2 separate regions of the Homo sapiens genome follow, and region 2 is reported to be linked to region 1. Evidence: microRNA targets listed by miRTarBase, many of them from high-throughput screens and not tested one by one. Region 1 holds a microRNA gene; the other region holds the end of a gene's coding sequence.

Region 1 (5,075 bases):
ACTCTTTGTGTAATAATGCAAAATAAGTTTACTGAAAATTTTCTTAAATTGAACACTTACTAATCTTCCAGATATCACCTTTTGTCAGAACTCAAGAGTTATGAATGGCCCTCACTGTAATGACACTTTCCAACTGAGCTCCTCTCTACTCTGAATACAAGAGACCCTAATAGTTAGGCAGGAATATCATCACCCCTGTTCAGCATGAAGAAGTTACAAAAGATGGATCTTCATTCCTCTGCAACCCTTAGGATTAAGGATTCTCTTGTAAAAGGGAAGGGGAAAATGTCAGAGGTGTTTGAACCAGAGCAATGCCATCTTAAATAGGAGCTGGGTAAAATGAGGCTGAAACCTACTGGGCTGCATTCCCAGAGGGTTAAGTATTCTAAGTCACAGGATGAGACAGGAGGTCAGCACAAGGTACAGGTCATAAAGACCTTGTTGATAAAACTGCAGTGAAGAAGCTGCAAAACCAAGATGGTGACAAGAGTGACCTCTGGTCATCCTCATTGCTACACTCCCACCAGTGCCATGACAGTTTACAGATGCCATGGCAACATTAGAAAGTTACCCTGTATGATCTAAAAAGGGGAGGCATGAATAATCCACCCCTTGTTTAGCATATAATCAAGAAATAAGCATAAAAATGGACAACCAACAGCCCTTGGGGCTGCTCGGCCTATGGAGTAGCCATTCTTTTATTCCTTTACTTTCTTAATAAACTTGTTTTCACTTTACTCTATGGACTCACCCCCAATTCCTTCTTGTGTGAGATCCAGGAACCCACTCTTGGGATCTGGATCGGGACCCCTTTCCAGTAACAGTTGGCTAAGGAGATCAGAAGTAGGCAAAACTCTATCAAGAAAATCAGGATGTTTTCTCCAGAAGGCAGCACTGAACTATGACTATAAATTTAGTAAGATAGAATGCAGTTGATGATAACGCAGTCCTTCCGGAGAAATACAGGGTGAAGAAAAGGAGACAGTGAACCAAGGCATAGACAAGGAAGATCTAAGGAGCTAGGTGATGTCAGTGCCCATCCAGACTCCAACTAGAGAAAGGGAATGAAAATGAAAATAGTTGTTTGTTCCCTGTAGCGCATGTTCCATGCTAGGTGATGGAGCCTCATTCTGAGAAATTTTCATGCCACGAATCACTCAAATCATACAGCTAATTACCCTTGCTCAATCTCACTTCCTTCCAGACACTTTTGATTATAAGTTGGCTTCCCATAGAGCTCTCCCTTCAGGAGTGAATGTTCTGGTCCTGTCTATGGAGTTCTCCATATTTGGTTTAGTTTGAACCCATGTCAGATCTGTTTGCTGTGTGCTAACCAAATCAAATTTTTCAGCCTTTGCACTGAAGACCAGCATCTGGACTGCAATGACTTCACCTGAGGATATATCATCACTGTGTGTCTCTTTTCAGCGATTTCATACCTCACCTGGAGAATCCCTTACCCATTACACATTTTAATCAAGTAGAGAAAAAAATGAGTAATTGATCCTCATTCTTTTAGTTAAATGGGGCTAGTAAACACTAGTCAGATTAGGAGGGTGAAATTCATTTTTCTTTTATTGTTCAATTCCTAACTTAAACAGATCTCTCTCTTTAAATATAGATGTAGATTTTTCCCTCTGTGGCCAGTAACTTTGTTGAACTATGCTAAGCTGTTTAGAAAGATGGCAAGATGCTTTGTATGTCATTCTATTGCCTTTCAGCATAGATAACTTTGGACAAGTCATTAACTTCTGATTATCAAAAAGATGTGGTAGTCAAATACTCTCATAGCATCACAAAGGGACATAAGTTTAAAAAGCATCTATTTTGAGTAACACACACCTAAAAATAATAGGGGCCGATATTTGAATCAAAGGAAAGGGTATATCTGAATATATCTCATTACTGTGTACTTGAAATGCAGCTTTAAATATAGAATGTTTCTGAGAGTGCTCTTAGGATGAAATTAATAGAAATAAAGTTAATTTCCTGTTTGACTGTCACCATGTGACAATACAAATTAGATGAATTTTCAGCACACTTACAGAGATGTTTAGGATGCTTAGAATACAAGCTAAATCACATACGCAAAATACCCTTGAGGATGCCTTTCAAATAGAGGAGCAGTCATCCTGCAAAGCAGCTGTGATTGGATTACCACAAGCACAGCAGTCCACAAGACTGTCAAAAGGTAAGAACTGTCATGCTGTGGATAGAGAAAAAAGTAGTACTTTTACAACGAACCCCAAACTGAATGACTCAAAGAGAGATGCTATGGAATTACAGGAATTTCTTTGCAACAGAGCTGTTTCTTCTCACACGGGCAATTCTGTGTGGTACATTATATGGGAGTGCCATAGTCAAGATTTTTTTTTTAATTTCACAATGATATGGATTCTTCAAATAACAGTAGAGAGGCTAACAGTGCCATCAACTTCATACCAATACTTCAAGAGCAGTATCCTCAGAATGCTCCAAATAATAACCACTAACACTTATTCAACTAATCCTTATGACTTCCTAATGAAACAAATTGCTATTATTCCTATTTTATAGATGAGAAAACTGAGGCACAGAGATGTTAAGTAACTTGCCCAAGGTCAACTGGTAAGTAATTCAGAATAGTTTGGTTTCAGGGACCCTGCTTGTAACCACTACATTTGAGGCCACACAGTGACTTCATGGAACAACAGTATCCCATGAGATGTTATTAGATATTATATGGAATTGTTAACAGTGCTGTATTAGTCCATTTTCATACTGCTATGAAGAAATACCTGAAACTGGGTAATTTATTTAAAAAAAAAGAGCTTTAATGGACTCACATTTCCATATGGCTGGGGTGGGGGTCCTCACAATCATGGTGGAAGGCAAAGGAGGAACAAAGGCACGTCTTACATGGTGGCAGGCAAAAGAGCGAGTGCAGGGTAACTGCCCTTTATTAAACCATCATATCTCGTGAGACTTATTCACTATCACCAGAACAGTATGGGAAAACCCGTCCCCATGATTCCATGATTCAATTACCTCCCACCAGGTCCCTCCCACAACACGTGGGGATTGTGGGAGCTACAATTCAAGAGATTAGGGTGGGGACACAGCCAAACCATATCAAGTGATGTAGTTCAACAAAAAATTTGGATATGTAGAGTTAAACCAAGTTAAATATTTTTTTTTCTACAGAACTTCTCAGAGTCTTTAATGTCCACTGTGAATTTTCACAGAGCTCTCAGTTTGGAAAAAGGTATTAGGTTGGTGCAAAAGTAATTGCAGTTTTTGCTATTACTTTTAATGGTAAAAACTGCAATTACTTTTACACCAACCTAATATTTAAGATCACTGTTTATTTTCTTGGCATTGTGTATTTTGATATTTTTAAAGAGAAGACTACTTCTACCTTTAAAAATGCTGGCTAAGAGAAAGCCTTAATAAAAATTTCAAAAGAGAAAGATTTGAAAAATAAGTTATAAGATAAAGTTTGTAATAGTCTAAAGTTAGAAACTGTTAGAATCTATTAGAGTTAGAAGCTCTCGAAGCTGGAAAAGAGAGCAATACCGATGTTCAATTTTAAAATGAGGCATTTAAAATAAATATATTGACATGGAAAATATCTAAGTTATATTGCGAGCTGAAAATAGACAAGATAATTATGCTTTTTAATGCAAATGCTTTTAAAACAATGCAGTAGATATATGCATGTACATAATAAATGTAAATGCATAATAAAAGGCACAGGATAATACATATTGATAATGAATCAGGTTGCATATGAAGATGAGAGTTGGATTGTTAGGGGTCAGAGAAGGGATGAAAAGGGACTTATTTCCATATTGTTTATTATTTTGGATGTATTCATGTAACCATATATTATGTCTTTAAAAAATTTTCAAGAACCAATAAGGTGTGGTGACTGACTAGAGTAAGAAGCCAAAGAAAGAAAGAGGCTAAAAATAATGTTAAGAATTGAATCCTAGAAGAAAACAATAGGGAAGATGGAGAATGTGCTGGCTTTTGTGGGAAATAATGGATTTGGGTTTCAGACATGCTGTGAATTAGGTGACACCACCGTGGTTCATCAGCATCATAGTTTTGTGCCTCCAATCTGGCTCTTCTATATGCAATTCCAAAATACAAATTGATAATTGTTGCTTTTATACTGAATACCCTTTGATGTCTTCCCTTTGCTCTTTAAGAGTTCAAGTTGTTTAATATGGTTTACAAAACCCTTCATGATTTGTCCCTTGCTGATCTCTCTCTCTCGTATCTATCCTCTAACCACACTCAAAAGTTCATTCCTCTAAAAAAGCCATAATCTTCCTCACCTCCAGATCTTCCTATTTGTAAGACTCTGCCTGGGATACTTCCCCCATTTCTCCATCTCCTAATTCCTAAGTATCCACAGGGATCTACTTAAATGGCTGACTCCTAGTTTAGCTTAGCTATCTATGATAAACTGAATAATGGCTCCCAGAGAAGTCCACATCCTTATCCCCAGAACCTGTGAATATGTTACCTTAGATGGCAAAACTTTGCAGATGTGATTACGTGAAAGGTCTTGAGATAAAGAGATTAGCCTGGATTAGATGGGTGATCCCAATGTAATCACAATGATCCTTACAAGAGGGAGGTAGTAGAGTTAAAGTCAGAAAAGCAGGTGTGACGACATAAGCAGAGGCTGAGGTGATGGGCTTTGAAGTTGGAGGAACAGCCACAAGCCAAGGAATGCAGATGGCCTCTAGAAGCTGGAAAAGACAAGGAAACAGATTCTCCTGCAGGCTCCAGAAGAAATGCAACCCTGCTAACACCATGATTTTAGTCTCCCAAGACTCATTTTGGACTTTTAACCTTCAGAACTGTAAGATAATACATTGTATTGTTTTAAGACAATATGTTTGTGGTGATTGGCTACAGCAGCAATTGGAAACTCATAGTATCTATCCAATACATTTTCATACTTCTCTTACAGTAACACTGTATCAGTTGGGATAGGCTAATACAGCTTTATTCAAAGTTTGGGTTGCAAACCAGTGCAGGTCTGTAAACTTACTGGTTTGCAATTATATAAGTAAAGAAAT
Region 2 (5,075 bases), not on the chromosome of region 1:
GCCTCCCAAGTAGCTGGGATTACAGGCGCCTGCCACCACGCCCAGCTAATTTTTTGTATTTTTATTAGAGATGGGGTTTCACTATGTTGCCAGGCTGGTCTCAAACTCCTGACCTCGTGATCCACCCGCCTCGGCCTCCCAAAGTGCTGGGATTACAGGCATGTGCCACCGCGCCTGGCCAGATGTGGACTCTTTAAAGACATGCTCTGAGTCAGAGGTTCCCAGCCAGTGTTAGGATCTCTGAGAGCTTACTTCCTTCAATGCCCCCCAGGCCATGGCGTATATAATAGTTACAGGAGAACAGGGCTGGCATTCAGCAACAGGGTTCAGGTACGAGCTAATGTGGACATCAGAAGTCAGCCTGGCCCAGAGGCAGCTAGGCAGGCCACTAAGATACACTACATAAACCTTTTCCCATGGTGTTCTGGGCCTAACATGTAATACTGCCTCTTCTAACTCTCACAGCCTGCTTAGGTTCTGCACATAGCCCAGACCTGAAGCAAAGCGCCCTTGCAGAGAAAAAAATAACAGCTTTAATTCACAGATTTGGTTGGTCTTGACCTCAAGTTCTTCCTTTGCCACGGTCTAAATCAGGGTGTGGGGCTAGAGGACAGATAATGAGAGACTGAATCATTTATGAAGGCCTTGGCCAAAGAGCAGCTAGTGCCCACTACATGGATCCCAGCAGGGCCAAATTCTCAACTTGTTGGCTTAACAAAAGAATGAAAAAGCTCAAACAGAAAACATACTGGACAAGGTTGGTCCAGAACATGCAATCCTAAATGGCTATGGAATAAATTTATTCTGAGCAATATCTCAGTCTCACACTCACTAAATTCTAGGGTAGTTCTATTGAAGATGTTTACCATGGTTTAGCGCACTGAGCCCTGCACCCTTCCCCAGGCTGCCAGGGAAGCAGAGAGGTACAAACATTCCTAATGCCCCAGTCAGCCTGTTCTCCCTATGGGGTCCCTGGATTACCTGCAGGGACCTGGGGGAAATTGGCTCCCTGTCTTCAGCTGAGAGTCTGGAATCTGAACCCTAGATGAATCTACTGAAGAATGCTCAAGATGATGGATACCAAGCTGAGTGAGTCTAGGGGAGAAGAGAGGCCTGAACAAAAGAGCTGGGGCCTTCAAAGAGGTGTATGAGAGGTGAGGTTAGTAGTGCCAGGCTTTCCTATCTTTTCCTTCTAGTTTGCTAGAAACAAGTACAACTTTAGGGTGTGGGGGGAAGGCAGGTAGACATGAAGAAATGGAAATACAGTTCATTCTGCTAGACATTTTAAACTGGTTTGGCTTGAGAAAAATAGAAAGTCTGTGCCTGAGAACCTTCTTTTCCTCTCCCTTATTTAAGTACAATAGCAGCTATAATCTGTGCAGTTCAGCTCCAAAAAACAGGGCTCCTGGAAGATGGCTTTCATGGCAGAGAGTTGATGGGGTAGATTAATGGGCTCTAGGTAAGGAGCAACACCAAGGGTCCCTGAAAACTGAGGCCAACACCTGCTCCCTGGGGGGGGGCCATTTGTATTCCCTGACCCATGTAACAAGCCTGGCCAGCTGTGGGTGGAATCCATGTGGTTCTATCAGAAGGCTGCAGCCAACATCAAGGCCAGGCAGTCACCAGGGTCAGCTGGGATCTGAAGGGAGGCTTCTAAGACCAGACACCCTGTTAGTACTAAAGATGATGATTTGGGGGTGGGATGCCTGGAGGGGCTGGCACCATTCAAAAAAGTATTGGAAAACATTAGCCAAGAAAAAGGCTCCTTGTCCCTCCTAATCCATATCCAGATACCCCCAACCAGAGATCTTAAAAAGGATAGACCAGCCATATGCCAACATGCCAGGATTCCAAAAGCATGCCTCAACTAATTAGGGTATTCCCTACAGCAGACTGGGGTAGAGGGGCTCCATCCTGGCAATAACCAGAGAGCCTTACCTCGCCTAGGCCAGGGTATGGAATCTAGATGAAGACTGTCCACAAACAGTGGCTCTCAAGCCTGGGCTAAATAAATAATATTTTGCTTCATTACATGGCCAAAGGAGAGGAGGAGATAGAAAAGATGATATTACTACCTCTGTGGGCTGGAAGAACTTCACCTGTTGGTTGAAAGGGGATTAAAGGAAGATAACAGGAAAACCTGGTCTGGAGAAGACATAAATGAAAGCTCCTGGAGGCCACTTTTCTCTGATTAGAAATCTATCCTCACACTCTGCCCCTAGTAGACTTTAGCCTTTGGAGTTCTTAGGGAAAACTGGCTTTAAGCAGCAGCCAGATCACCAAAAACATTTTCCATCTGGTACAGGACCCGGAGCTGAAGCCAAAGTAGATTTTGGAGGAACAGCTGGACAAGCAGGATGTGTATGTCTTACACTAAGAAACTGGTCCCTGTATCAGGGACTTAACTCTTACTTGAGATGTACAAAGTAGATCCTACTAAATTGCCCTTTGGAAGAGAACAATGGGCGGAGGTTGGGTAGGGGAAGGCTTTTTTTTTTTTTTTTTTTTTAAACTGTAAGAGAATGGTTTTTTAATGGAGGTAGCAGGCCAAGTGAAAAAAAGATTCTGCCCCCTGCCTTCCTGGGAGATTGGGAGTTGGCAGCCATCATTCCCAAGCTGATGAGTGGCATATGACTCACCAAGGTGGTACAACATGGGTGGGATTTTTCAAGGACAATTGCCAGACCTAAACCATCCTCCTCAGAAAATGGCTTTGAAGTGGGACTGCAGCACTAGGAGAGGGCAAATTCAAGATCAATGGCCAATAATAAGTACCTGAACTTTAGGTCTATAAGCAGAAGGGCATGGATTTCACCTGAGCCAGAAGGAGATGTGTAGCAATAGAAGCAAGAATGGCATTGTTTCAGAGGAAGGAAAAGCAGAGCTTGGAGCAGGATGCCTCTGACTAACCACAGTGGGGAGGTGGGGGTGGGGCAGACTGTGCCTTCAGCTCCACAGCTGGTCTACACCAACTTCCTCTACTCCCATCCAAACAGGTGGGCTTTACTATCATATGTAATCCACCCAGAGGCACAGGCAAGCCACTAAGGCAATGCACTACCGTAATTCAAACAGAAAGAAGAGGCATCTGGATTATAATTGTCACAAGGAAGGGAAAACCCAAACCAGGTACAAGGATCCCAAACAGGGAAGATACGCAATAGCTCTAAAAAAAAAAAAAAAAAAAGCAGGCTACTAAGTTTCAGTGATAATAGATAATAGGAGAGGCAGCCATGGGTGATCAGTTATGTGGACAATGGCCATTGAGATTGAATTTGACAAGGCAAACTGCTTCTGAGTTTCCTGATACAAGCAGGATGTTCAGCAGTAAGGACAGAGTAGCAGACTTCACCAGGCCCTGAGGCCATCCTTGCTCCCTTCAGGTCCTGGGACAATCAGGCCACGCTGACCTGCTTTATGAAGGTTCCAGAGCTGAAGGTTGGTCCCAGGTGGTGGTCCAGAATCCAAGCAGAGAGGAAAAGGACCAAGCTCAGGCCTCCTGAGCGAGGAAGCATCCATATCTCTTTTTGGTCTTCCTCACAGTATCCTACTTACCGAAATGACAGACAGTTCTTCCTCTTGAGACCAATTAAGATTGACCTACCTAATATATAGAATATAAAAAAATACAGAACTTTTTGACATTCTCTCCTTTAGAAGTAAAATATACATGATCCAACTATGGAAGAGGAAGAAGAAGAAGAAGAAAGGCCAAAGGCAGGGATCCCTGACTATCCCAATACATGACACTCTCACTCCACCCTCCTCTGCAACTTACAGGTCACCAGAGCAAGGACTTTCTCCTCAGGAGAAAGGAAGGACCACAGCCCCCTATCTCAAGCTTAGGAGAAAATACAGCCACCTCAGAGGTTCTCTCAACCTCGAGGGGGAATTTTCAAGTAAACAAATGAAGTTGGGTCGCACCATTTGGAAGGTGAGTAGGAAATATGGGATCAGTAGCTACACGTGGGAAGCCCCATCTGAAGGCCTGTGCTCCTCCCCTGCACTCCCACTGGTATACTTGAGACACTTCAGGAGAGTGAGGAGGATCCCCCAAACTAAAGAGGTCTGGGCAAAGAGTCAGAGGGAGGGAGGGACCTTTGTTTCATGGTAGCCTCCCCAGCCTCTAGTCCCAGGCAATGCAGGCAGCTGGGTTTACTAAAACCAGGAACTTGTGGCTCTTGGGAAGAGCAATCTTAATACAAGAAAAATGTGCAAAAGAAAAAAAAATTAAATAACTCAATCCAAGCGTACAAGATTAATATTCTGTCAGAGCAAGAACACTTTGTTTTGGATTTCTCCCTTCCCCTCCCACCTCCCACCTCTGGAATATACCGTCTGCTCAAGTACCCAAGATAAGAGTTACACAGATCAGGGCAGAGGACCGGGAAGAATGAAAAAAGATAAAGGGAAGGAAGTCACCACTGAAGAAAAAAAGAAAAAAAATAAAAATAAAAAAAGGTGCAAATTGATTACCTTAGTCCTCCTTTGTCTACCCCTGGGCTCCTGGGTTAAAGACATGTGTGCAGCCAAAATATAGTGTAAGGAAGAAAAACCCAACACGTCCCCTTCTTGTCACAAAACCCAAAGGTGAGCCTCAGATGGTTCTGTCTGTCCAGAGGGTGCTCCCTCCAGGGAAGGGGGCGGAGCAGGTCAAGAGCACAGTCTCCAGGGCAGCAGAGGTGTGTGGTGGCTGATGGTGGGGACACTGGTTTCCCGCCCACCAGAGGGCTGCTCTTCCGCTGGCTGGTGGTGCTTCCCATCCCCTCCCCTCCCTGGAGGCAGATATTATAGCTGGAAGCCCTCCATGGGGGCCTCAGGCTGCTGGAAGATGAACTGCTGTTGCGTTTCATCGACTTGGGGAGCCAGGCTGCTATCATCGTCTTCTACACCAAAGTAGTGCTCAATGAGGTCGAAGGCCTTCTGGTAGATCTCCTGGTTCTCGTGGCTCTGGAGAAACTCAATTTTATCCAAGCCTACAGTAGTAAGAAGGAAGGAGAGGGAAGTGTGAGTGCTTTTCTATGGGCAGGTGAAACATTTACCTATTTTTCCTTCCCTGAGGTATGTTAGTGCTT

The links. The annotated mature microRNA hsa-miR-548g-5p reads UGCAAAAGUAAUUGCAGUUUUUG and lies in region 1 at 3,257-3,279, shown strand. An mRNA with a match to its seed (bases 2 to 7 or 8) in the 3' UTR can be bound and repressed. Matches are read on the target gene's strand: a 7mer-m8 pairs with bases 2 to 8, a 7mer-A1 pairs with bases 2 to 7 and ends in A, and an 8mer does both.
Region 2: the mRNA of KPNA6 is a reported target of hsa-miR-548g-5p. Seed matches in the 3' UTR shown: 8mer at 4,214-4,221.

What each region holds. Positions count from the first base shown.
Region 1 is chrX:38,022,153-38,027,227 of GRCh38, reverse strand. MIR548AJ2 (microRNA 548aj-2) reads left to right here and starts at 3,242; the gene lies at 3,242-3,333. The region is part of intron 1 of SYTL5 (synaptotagmin like 5); the gene reads right to left.
Region 2 is chr1:32,170,608-32,175,682 of GRCh38, reverse strand. KPNA6 (karyopherin subunit alpha 6) reads right to left here. Exons shown (of 14, transcript NM_012316.5): 14 at 1-4,976. The coding sequence ends at 4,789. Among named protein-coding and RNA genes, the nearest start is that of TXLNA, 6.5 kb to the left of the region's middle.